2 separate regions of the Homo sapiens genome follow, and region 2 is linked to region 1. A link means that fine-mapping ties the variant in region 1 to the expression of a gene that starts in the linked region. Tissue or cell type: stomach. Region 1 holds a variant in brackets; the other region holds the start of a gene. All regions are shown on one strand. Distances are between the middles of the regions.

The links. PIP is the estimated chance that this variant, and not a neighbour inherited with it, causes the effect.
Region 2: CAPN10 starts here. The variant in region 1 is fine-mapped to the expression of CAPN10 in stomach (GTEx, PIP 0.94).

What each region holds. Positions count from the first base shown.
Region 1 is chr2:241,523,051-241,528,195 of GRCh38, forward strand. No RefSeq gene overlaps it. Among named protein-coding and RNA genes, the nearest start is that of STK25, 17 kb to the left of the region's middle. The variant A/G (reference allele first, on the strand shown) is at 2,122.
Region 2 is chr2:240,583,847-240,588,991 of GRCh38, forward strand. CAPN10 (calpain 10) reads left to right here and starts at 2,888. Exons shown (of 12, transcript NM_023083.4): 1 at 2,888-3,206. The coding sequence starts at 3,066. CAPN10-DT (CAPN10 divergent transcript) reads right to left here and starts at 2,470. Exons shown (of 1, transcript NR_103792.1): 1 at 1-2,470. RefSeq lists enhancers at 635-704, 1,075-1,444, 2,435-2,614, 2,666-2,960, 2,899-3,725 and a silencer at 2,925-3,154.

The DNA.
Region 1 (5,145 bases):
TTAATCCAGGCCAGGTGCGGTGGCTCATGCCTATAATCCCAGTACTTTGGGAGGCCGAGGCAGGCGGATCGCTAGAGGTCAGGAGTTCAAGACCAGCCTGCCCAGCACAGTGAAACCCCATCTCTACTAACAATACGAAAATTAGCAGGGCGTGGTGGCACATGCCTGTAATCTCAGCTACTTGGGAGGCTGAGGCAGGAGAATCGCTTGTACCTGGAGGTGGAGGTTGCAATGAGCCGATAATGCTACTGCACTCCTGCCTGGGCAACAGGGCGAGACTCTGTCTCAAAAAAATAAAAATAAATAAATAATTAAATAATTATTTAATCCATATATATTTCTGTTTACATCTCTAAAAGATAAGGGCTTTAAGGCCAGGCGCGGTGGCTCACGCCTGTAATCCCAGCACTTTGGGAGGCCGAGGCGGGTGGATCACAAGGTCAGGAGATCGAGACCATCCTGGCTAACATGGTGAAACCCCGTCTCTACTAAAAATACAAAAAAATTAGACGGGCGTGGTGGTGGGTGCCTGTAGTCCCAGCTACTCGGGAGGCTGAGGCAGGAGAATAGCGTGAACCTGGGAGGCGGAGTTTGCAGTGAGCCGAGATCGCGCCACTGCACTCTAGCCTGGGAGACAGAGCGAGACTCCGACTCAAAAAATAAATAAATAAATAAATAAATAAATAAAAGATAAGGGCTTTAAAAATATAACTACAATGCCATTATCACACTATTAAAAATTAACAAGAGGGTTTCAATTCCAGGTAAGATGGAGTAAGCAAGTTCCACCTGCCTCTCCTGTGGAATGCAGCTATAAAATCTGGACGCAACTAATGGAGCAGATACTTGAGGTTTCTGAGCAGGAAATAGCAGCAGGTGGATTAGGAAAGACCAGTGATATGGTTTGGCTGTGTCCCCACCCAAATCTCATCTTGAATTGTAGCTCCCATAATTCCCACGTGTTGTGGGAGGGACCTGGTGGGAGATAATTGAATCACGGGGGCGGTTCCTCCCATACTGTTCTCATGGTAACTAGTAAGTCTCACGAGATCTAACGGTTTTATAAAAGGGGGAAACCACTTTTGCTTGGTTCTCATTTTCTCTCTTGCCTGTCACCATGTAAGACATGTCTTTGCCTTCTGCCACGATTGTGAGGCCTCCCCAGCCATGTGGAACTGTGAGTCCATTAAACCTCTTTTTCTTTATAAATTACCCAGTCTCAGATATGTCTTTATCAGCAGTGTGAAAATGGACTAATACAACCAGAATTCAAAGTACCACTGAATGGCTATGAGTTACCCATTGGTTGTCCCCAGATGTCTCTCGGTCTGGACAAGCTATGACAAGACATAGACAAGCTGATTCTAAAATGCATATGGAAAAGCAAAGACACTATAATACTCTAAACAATTTTCAAACAGAAAAATAAAGTTAAATCGTACTCCCCACTTTTAAGCCTTCCTATAAGCAGTGTAGTTTGGGTAAAGGGATATATACACAGGTCATTTGAACAATAGGATCCAGCAGTAGGCCACACACATACAGCTAACTGATTTCTGACAAGGTGCAAAAACAAGTCAACAGAGAGAAGAATAGTCTTTTCAATGAAGGGCGCTGGAACAATTGGACATTCATATACCAAAAAAAGAGGTAATCTCAACTTAAACCACAAGCTTTATACAAAAATTGATATAAATGGGTCATAGGTCTAAATGTAAAAAATATAACATTATAAAATTTTTAGGTGAAAATATCTAAAATCCTTGTGACCTGGGAAAAGAGTTCTTAGATATAATACCAAAGCACAATCCATAGAACCAAAACCATGCTAAAGCTATAAAACTCCCAGAAGAAAACATCAGAAAAAAATCTTTGTGATCTTGGATTTGGTGATGGTTTCTGAAATGTGACACCAAAAGGACAAGCAGCAAAAGAAAAATTAAATTGAACTGCATCAAAATTAAAACTTGTGTACATCAAAGGACACTCTCAAGAGAGTGAAAAGAGAATCCGTGGAAGAAAATGCTTGCAAATTATATATCTGATAAGAGTTTAATATCCAGAATATATAAGGAACTCCTACAACTCAGCAACATCAAACAACTCAATTGAAGAATAGAC[A/G]ACTTTAATAGACATTTTCCCAAAGAAAACATACAAATGGCCAAGAAGCACACAAAAAGATGCCCGCCATCACTAATCATTAGGGAAACAGATCAAAATCCCACTGAGATACCACTTTACACCCATCAGGATGGTTACTATCAAAGAAACATAAAATAACCAGTGTTGGCACAGCTGTGGGAAAATTGGAACCTGTGCACTGTTGGTGGGATTGTAAAATGGTATAGCTGCTGTGGAAAACAGAATGGTGGTTCCTCAAAAAACTAAAAACAGAATTCCCATACATCATAGCTCACTGTGTGTTGCTATAGCAGAATACCTAAGACAGGTGTTGCGGGAATTCAGGGACCCCGAACGGAGGGACCAGCTGGAGCTGCGATAGAGGAACATAAATTGTGAAGATTTCATGGACATTTATCACTTCCCAAATAATACTCTTATAATTTCTTACACCTGTCTTACTTTAATCTCTTAATCCTGTTATCTTCGTAAACTGGGAAAGTACGTCACCTCAGGACCCTGTGATAATTGTGTTAACTGTACAAATTGATTGTAAAATGTGTGTTTGAACAATATGAAATCAGTGCACCTTGAAAAAACAGAATAACAGCGATTTTAGGGAACAAGGGAAGACAACCATAAGGCCTGACTGCCTGCGGGGTCGGGCAAAAAGAGCCATATTTTTCTTCTTGCAGACAGCCTATAAACAGATGTGCAAGTAGGGAAGATATCGCTAAATTCTTTTCCTAGCAAGGAATATTGATATTAATACTCTGGGAAAAGAATTGCATTCCTGGGGGGAGGTCTATAAACGGCCGCTCTGAGAATGTCTGTCCTATGCGGTTGAGATAAGGACTGAGATACGCCCTGGTCTCCTGCAGTACCCTCAGGTTTACTAGGGTAGAGAAAAACCCCACCCTGGTAAATTTGAGGTCAGACCGGTTCTCTGCTCTCGAACCCTGTTTTCTGTTGTTTAAGACGTTTATCAAGATAATACGTGCACCGCTGAACATGGACCCTTATCAGTAGTTCTGTTTTGCCTTGTCCCGTTTCCTCAGAAGCATGCGATCTTTGTTCTGCCTTTTGCCCTTTGAAGCATGTGATCTTTGTTCCTACTCCCTGTTCATACCCCCCCGCCCCGCCTTTTGAAATCCTTAATAAAACCTGCTGGTTTTGTGGCTCAGGCAGGCATCACGGTCCTACCGATATGTGATGTCACCCCCGGCGGCCCAGCTGTAACATTCCTCTCTTTGTACTCTTTCTCTATTTCTCAGACCAGCCGACACTTATGGAAAATAGAACCTACGTTGAAATATTAGGAGCGGGTTCCCCTGATAACTGGGTAATTGATAAGCAATAGATGTTTATTTGACTCATGGTTCTGGAGGCTGAGAGGTCCAAGGGCAGGGCACCAGCATCTGGTGAGGGCCTTCCTGCGTCGTCTGTAGTGGAAGGTGGAAGGGCAAGAGAGAGAGACAGCGAAAGGGCACGAGAGCAAGAGGGGCCGTATTCACTTATAACAAAGCCACTTGTGAGCTAACTGACACACTCACGCGATAACAGCATGAAACCATTCATGGTGGCAGAGTCCTCGTGCCCTAAATGGCTCTTACTAGGCCCCACCTCCCGACACCACTGCATTTTGAGGATTAGGTTTTCAACACATGAACTTTGCTGCACACATTCAAACCGTAGCCCTGTATGATCCAGGAATCCCACTTCTGGGCATATACTCCCCACAAATTAAAAACAGGAGCTTAAAGAGATATTTGTTTTCTTTTCTTTTTCTTTTTTTTTCTTTTTTTTTTTTGAGACAGAGTCTTGCTCTGTCACCCAGGCTGGAGTGCAGTGGCGCGATCTCTGCTCACTGCAGCCTGTGCCTCCTGGGTTCAAGCAGTTGTCCTGCCTCAGCCTCCTGAATAGCTTGGACTACAGGTGCACACCACCATGCCCAGCTAATTTTTGTATTTTTAGTAGAGACAAGGTTTCACCATATTGGCCAGGATGGTCTTGATCTCCTGACCTCGTGATCCACCCACCTCAGCCGGAGTGCAGTGGCACCATCTCAGCTCACTGCAACGTCCGCCTCCTGGGTTCAAGCGATTCTTCTGCCTCAGCCTCCCGAGTAGCTGGGACTACAGGCGCGAGGCCACCATGCCCAGATAATTTTTGTATTTTTAATAGAGACATGGTGTCAACATACTGACCAGGCTGGTCTCAAACTCCTAGACCTTGTCATCCACCTGCCTCAGCCTCCCAAAGTGATGGGATTACAGGCGTGAGCCACCGTGCCCGGCCTTCTTTTCTTTCTTTCTTTTTTTTTTTTTAAGACGGAGTTTCACTCTTATTGCCCAGGCTGGAGTGCAATGGCACCATCTCGGCTCACTGAAACCTCCGCCTCCTGGGTAAAAGTGATTCTCCTGCCTCAGCCTCCCGAGTAGCTGGGATTACAGGCATGCGCTACCACGCTGGGCTAATTTTGAATTTTTGGTAGAGACAGGGTTTCTCCATGTTGATCAGGCTGGTCTCGACCTCCTGACCTCAGGTGATCCACCCACCTCGGCCTCCCAGAGTGCTGGGATTACAGGCCCAGCCTCTTATTTTTTAAATTAGAGATAAGGTCTCACTATGTTGCTCAGGTTGGTCTCAAACTCCTGGACTCAAGCAATACTCCTGCCTTGGCCTCCCAAAGTGCTGGGATTACAGGCATGAGACACTGCACCCGGCCCCTTTAAAGAGATATTTGTATTCCATGTTCATAGCAGCATTATGCGCAATAGCCAAGAGGTGGGGAAAAACCCGAAGTCCATCAACGAATGGATATATAAAATGTGGCCTATCCATGCACTGGAATATTATTAGCCTTAAAAGGACAGAATTCCTGACCACAACATGGATAAACCGAAAGGACTTTATGCTCAGTGAAATAAGCCAGTCACAAAGGGACAAATGCTGCATGATTGATTCCTTTTATATGAGGAAATCTAGTCAAATTCATAGAAACAAAAAGCAGAAAGGTGGTTG
Region 2 (5,145 bases), 940 kb before region 1:
GCATGGGGATGCTCTTCCCTCCTTGAAGTGAGGGCCCCGAGGCTCTCATACTTTAATTACAGTACTTCAGACCAAGAGCCTGCAGTTGAGGAGGCCAGGGTCATGAATCAGCTGCCCCCCAAACTCCTTATCTCACCAACCCAAGCTGCTTACAACCCCTCCAGATATCCCAGGAGCCGGGGGGAATGTCATTCTTCAGGGCTGAGGGAACATCTTTGCACCCTGGGGTAGCAGATGGGACCACAGGGCATGTGGAATGTCTTAGTCTGTTTCACACTGCTATACCTGAGGTTGGGTTTGTTTTATTTATTTATTTATTTATTTAGAGACGGAGTCTCGCTCTGTCGCCCAGGCTGGAGTGCAGTGGTGCGATCTGGGCTCACTGCAAGCTCCGCCTCCCGGGTTCACACCATTCTCCTGCCTCAATCAGCCTCCCGAGTGAGGGGCTGGGACTACAGGTGCCCGCCACCACACCTGGCTAATTTTTTTGTTTCTTTTTTTTTTTCAGTAGAGATGGGGTTTCACCGTGTTAGCCAAGATGGTCTCGATCTGACCTCGTGATCCGCCCGCCTCGGCCTCCCAAAGTGCTGGGATTACAGGCGTGAGCCACTGCGCCCAGCCAAGGTGGGGGAATTTATTTTTTTAAAAAAGCAAAACAGGTTTATTTGGCTCAAAATTCTGGTGGAAATTTCAAGATTGGGCAGCTGCACCTGGTGAGGGCCTCATGCTACTTCAACTCAAGGCAGCAAGTAGAAGGGGAGAGGCATGCACAAAGAGATTACGTGGCCATATGGCGAGAGAGGAAGCAAGAGACAACCGCAGGAAGGCTGACTCTCTAACCAGCTCTCATGGGAACTCACCCCTCCACAAAGGACACTAACCTATCCATGAGGGATCCACCCCTATTACCCAAACTCCTCCTACTAGGCACCACCTCCTAACACTGCCTCATTGAGGCTCAAATTTCAATACCATTTTGGGCAGGGGCAGACCACATGCAAATCACAGCATGGGGTAATAGTGGGGGCAGGTTGACACAGGGCTGCTGCCTACCCAGCACCAGCTGTCTCTTGGCCCCTTCCAGATCCTGGCAATCTGGCTACAGGCATGGGCCCAGCCTTGGACACAGATGTGGCCACAGGAAGCTGTTAGCTCTCCAGATCTGATCAGCCTGGGAGAGCGGCACAACAAAGGCTCCCAAAGGAGAGTCGGGATCCTCAGCTAGCCTCAGCTCTGCTACCCACCCATATGTGCCCAGAACAGGAAAGATACGTGTTTCTTACTCCTCCGGGACTCCTAGGTGAAGCTGAGACCAGGCTCTTCTTGAGTCCTCTCAGCTATGGTGCAACCACCAGCCTAGCAAGGAATCAGAAACATCTTCCGGAAGAGTCAGCACCATAGAGGGTGCTGAATGGGCAATGAAGCATCCCGGAGATGAAACATCTGGGCAGTGAGGCATCCCACAGGTGTTGGGCTATGCAGTCACTCCCTTTCTCAGACCGAGGCAAGTACATAAGCACTCTGGGCCCCTAATCAGGGGCCTGGGGCCAGGTGGGATGAAAACAGCAGTGTCCTGCCACCTGAACAACTGCTACTCACGCAGGCCCCACCTGGCCTCTCAGAGGGAGGAACCTGGGACTCCTGAACCAGATTCAGTTTCTCCTTCAACAGCCGGGACTTTTCGCTCCTGACTGCAGAAAAACAGCTTCAATGTGACCATCCTTGATAGTCCGAGGCTGAGTAAAATGGCCTGAGGAGGCAAAATCTGAAAAGCTCTATTAGGTGGCAAACTGCTGTCACTAGAAGAGTTGAGGCCCCCTTCTCCTCCCCTGCCTGACCGCCTTCATTCCTGGGAATGGAACAGGTTCTTGGGGCAAGGGTGAATCCTCGAGCAGGTCCCAGGATCACTATCCTCACCTCCCCGCGGCACTGAATGGCTATAGCTGTAAATGTGCGTCCACGGGGTCACTGTCCAGCCACCAGGACCAGGTGCCTGGCCATCTGGGGAATCGGAAAACGCTCAGCGGGATGCTCTGGCCACCTCCCCTGCCCCCAGTTAAGATGTAGAGCGTTCAACCTAAAATGCCTAGAAACAAAGCCCAGGCCCGGGAAGGTCGAACGAGTGCGACGCCGCTCCCTCAAGCTCTTCCCTCGGAGCCGTCTCATTTCCCAAAACTCCCAAACACATCACAGAGAGAGGTGTTGAGCCAGGTGGTCACTCCCTTTTCCAGAACCACAGCAAGAAGTTGAGCCTGCTGGGCTCCTAACGAAGGCCCTGGGGCCCGGTGGGATGAAAAGCCCTATTAGGTAGCAAACAGCTGTCACTAGAGGGGTTGAGGCCCCCTTCTCCCCTGCCTGACGACGACGGCGGCAGGAACTCGACCGGCGCCGGACAGCTCGCAACTTGCCTTACCAAGCGTAAATCTCGGTTCCTCCCAACTACCCGCGGCCACGGCCTCCGCAGCAGAGCGCCGGAAGCAGAGACGCGTTTCGGGAGGAAGGTGCATGCTGGGAGCGGCGGCGCATGCTGGGAGCTGTAGTCTGCGACGCAACTCGGCCGAGGTGGCTCCCTGGTCCCTGAAGCTCCCAGAGCCCGCGTGTTCAGGCGGTCCCGACACCCCGGCCCGAGCCTCACCGGCTGGAGGACTGAACGCCTGCCGGCCCTCCGGGTATGAGCGGAGGCCGGGATAGCCCTGGGCTCCGCCGCCCCCGGAAGGAAAAAATACAGTGCGGTCCGCCGCCCGACCACGAAAGAGCGGAGCTCGGGAGCCCCGCCCCCTGGGCCTCCGACGTCCGTGGCGCTTTCCGTCGCGCGAGTGCGATTGGGCCGCCTGTCACGTGACCCGAGACCCCACGCCCGGTTGGCTGCCGCCTGGTTACCAATGGGAGACTAGCGGGCCGGCGTACTGGCCTGGTCCAGCACCTGCGGGGCCCTCGGGCTTGGAGGGCTGGGCCGGGCGGGGAACGGGCGGGGCGGGCCGGAGGCGGCGGCGGCTGACTCGCCTTCTCTCCGGGGCTGCGACCCCGAGGCAACCGGCTGCAGATGGGAGCCCGCGGAGCCGAGGATGCGGGCGGGCCGGGGCGCGACGCCGGCGAGGGAGCTGTTCCGGGACGCCGCCTTCCCCGCCGCGGACTCCTCGCTCTTCTGCGACTTGTCTACGCCGCTGGCCCAGTTCCGCGAGGACATCACGTGGAGGCGGCCCCAGGTGGGGCCGTGTGGGGTGCGGTGGGCGCCGTTTCTGGTTTCTGAGATCTCCGCTCCTCGCAGGGAGCGGGGCGGGGTGGGCGGCCAGGGTAGCTCCGAACGCAGGGTCCGCCGTTGTTCTCCTCAGAAGTGGGCGCCCGGCCCCCTCTTTTCGTACCTCCTTCATACCCCCGCCCAGAACGAGCAGGACTCGGCGCTACCCTAAGGACGCTAAACTAGGTCGTGGCCTCCGCCTGCGAGAGCTCCAATCCAGGAGGCTCAGAGCGCTGCGAGAGGCGTTTTAACAGAGCCCCAAACCCCGCCCCACCTGTTTGCTTTCGCCCTGAAGAGCGTTTGTGTCTGCTCCTCCCGCAGAGAGGGCCGCTCGTGCCCCTCTGAAGTGGCTAGGCCGAGCCCACAAAGCAAAGCGTGATAGAATTTCAGTTTTGGATTTTGTGCACCTGCCTTTCCAGTTGTAACACCTAGAAATGGCACCTCCAAGGGATGCCCTGGCCGAGTGCTGTGTTCATATTTTTAGAAATGGTTTATCTGCTGAATAAGACTGCCCAGGGAGCAACCTTGCCCTAAGTGGATGCGGTCTTAGCGGAGACAACTGATGGCCGCCAGTCTTCGAACAGAGCTGGAACTTCTGGGCTCTCGTGACTGAGATGGCTTTGACAGGCCACCTGGTTTCCTTGGACAACACTGAAGGGCCTGGGAGGAGGCAAGGGTCAGACCATGTAGAGCCTTGTCATTGGAATTTGGGTTTTATTTTGTTAAAAGATTGATTTTAGGTGCAGCTGGAGGCCACTAGAGGGTTTTGGTAGAGGAGTGGTTCTCTTGGATGTGTGTTTTTACAAGCTCACTCTTGCTGCTGGGTGGGAAGTGGGTTGTCGGGGCAAGAATGCAAGGGTCCATTGTAGTGGTCCTGGAGAAAGATGAAGGGGCTCAGATTAGCTTGACGACTGTTAGGATGTGGGTTTGGAGTAGATTGGTTTGAGACGTACCTTGCAGGGGGGATCGAGAGGCCATAGTGACTGATTGAAATAGAGGGTGAGGATAGTGGAGGGATCAACATGCCTTCTGGGTTTCTGGCCTGAACAGGTGGGTGGATGGTGGTCCTGGGACAGAGCCTGGGGGTGACCTAGAGTTGGGCTTTGCTCTCACGTCTTCAGGTGGAGCTGTCCTGGAGGCAGGTGGATCTGTCCTGGAGGCAGGTGGATACGGAGCAGGGATAGGCTAGAGGCATTCTTCTGGGAGGCGGAGCATATTAGATGGTTTACAGTCCACAGCCTGGGAGAGTGTCTCGGGGGAGTATCAGTAAAGAAGAAGGGGGCCTTGGGGCTGAGCCTTGAGGAACCCTAACATTTCTTGGGGTCAGGCAGGTGCCCTGACAGATAGACTTGAGAAGCAGCAGGCAGTGAGGGAGAGGACACCCGGGGAGCATGCGGCCTCACAGAAGCTGAGTGGGGACCACCTCAGGGGCAGCAGATGGCTGTTCTGCTGTTGTGAATGCTGCTGAGTAGTTGGGGAAGAGAGTTGGGACCAAGAGAAGCCCAGTGGGTTTGATAACATAGAGGTGACAGCGACATTGATCGAGGCAGTTTAGGGGCCATGATTGGCTCAGAAGCTAGAGGAGCCTGTGTGGAGAGTGAATGGGAAGCAGGTAGTGGGCATGGCAGCTCTTTCAAGAGCTGTAATGAAGAGAAGCCTGAAGGAGACTATGGTGCTGAGAGATAATGTCTTAAAGAACATGGGGGTGGGATTCTGCCCGGGGAGCTGGAAGGGAAGGAGTTGTGAGAGGAGCCCAGGCTCTGAGGGCAGGAGAGAGGGTCAGGTCCAGAAGCAGGAGGCAAGGTCGAAGCTCAGAGGGGTGGGCAAGGGCAGTGTGGATGTTTTGAGTAGACGGGGAGAAAGGGGAAGGTATATGATAGTTAGGGGGTGTGGGAAATGGAGCCTGC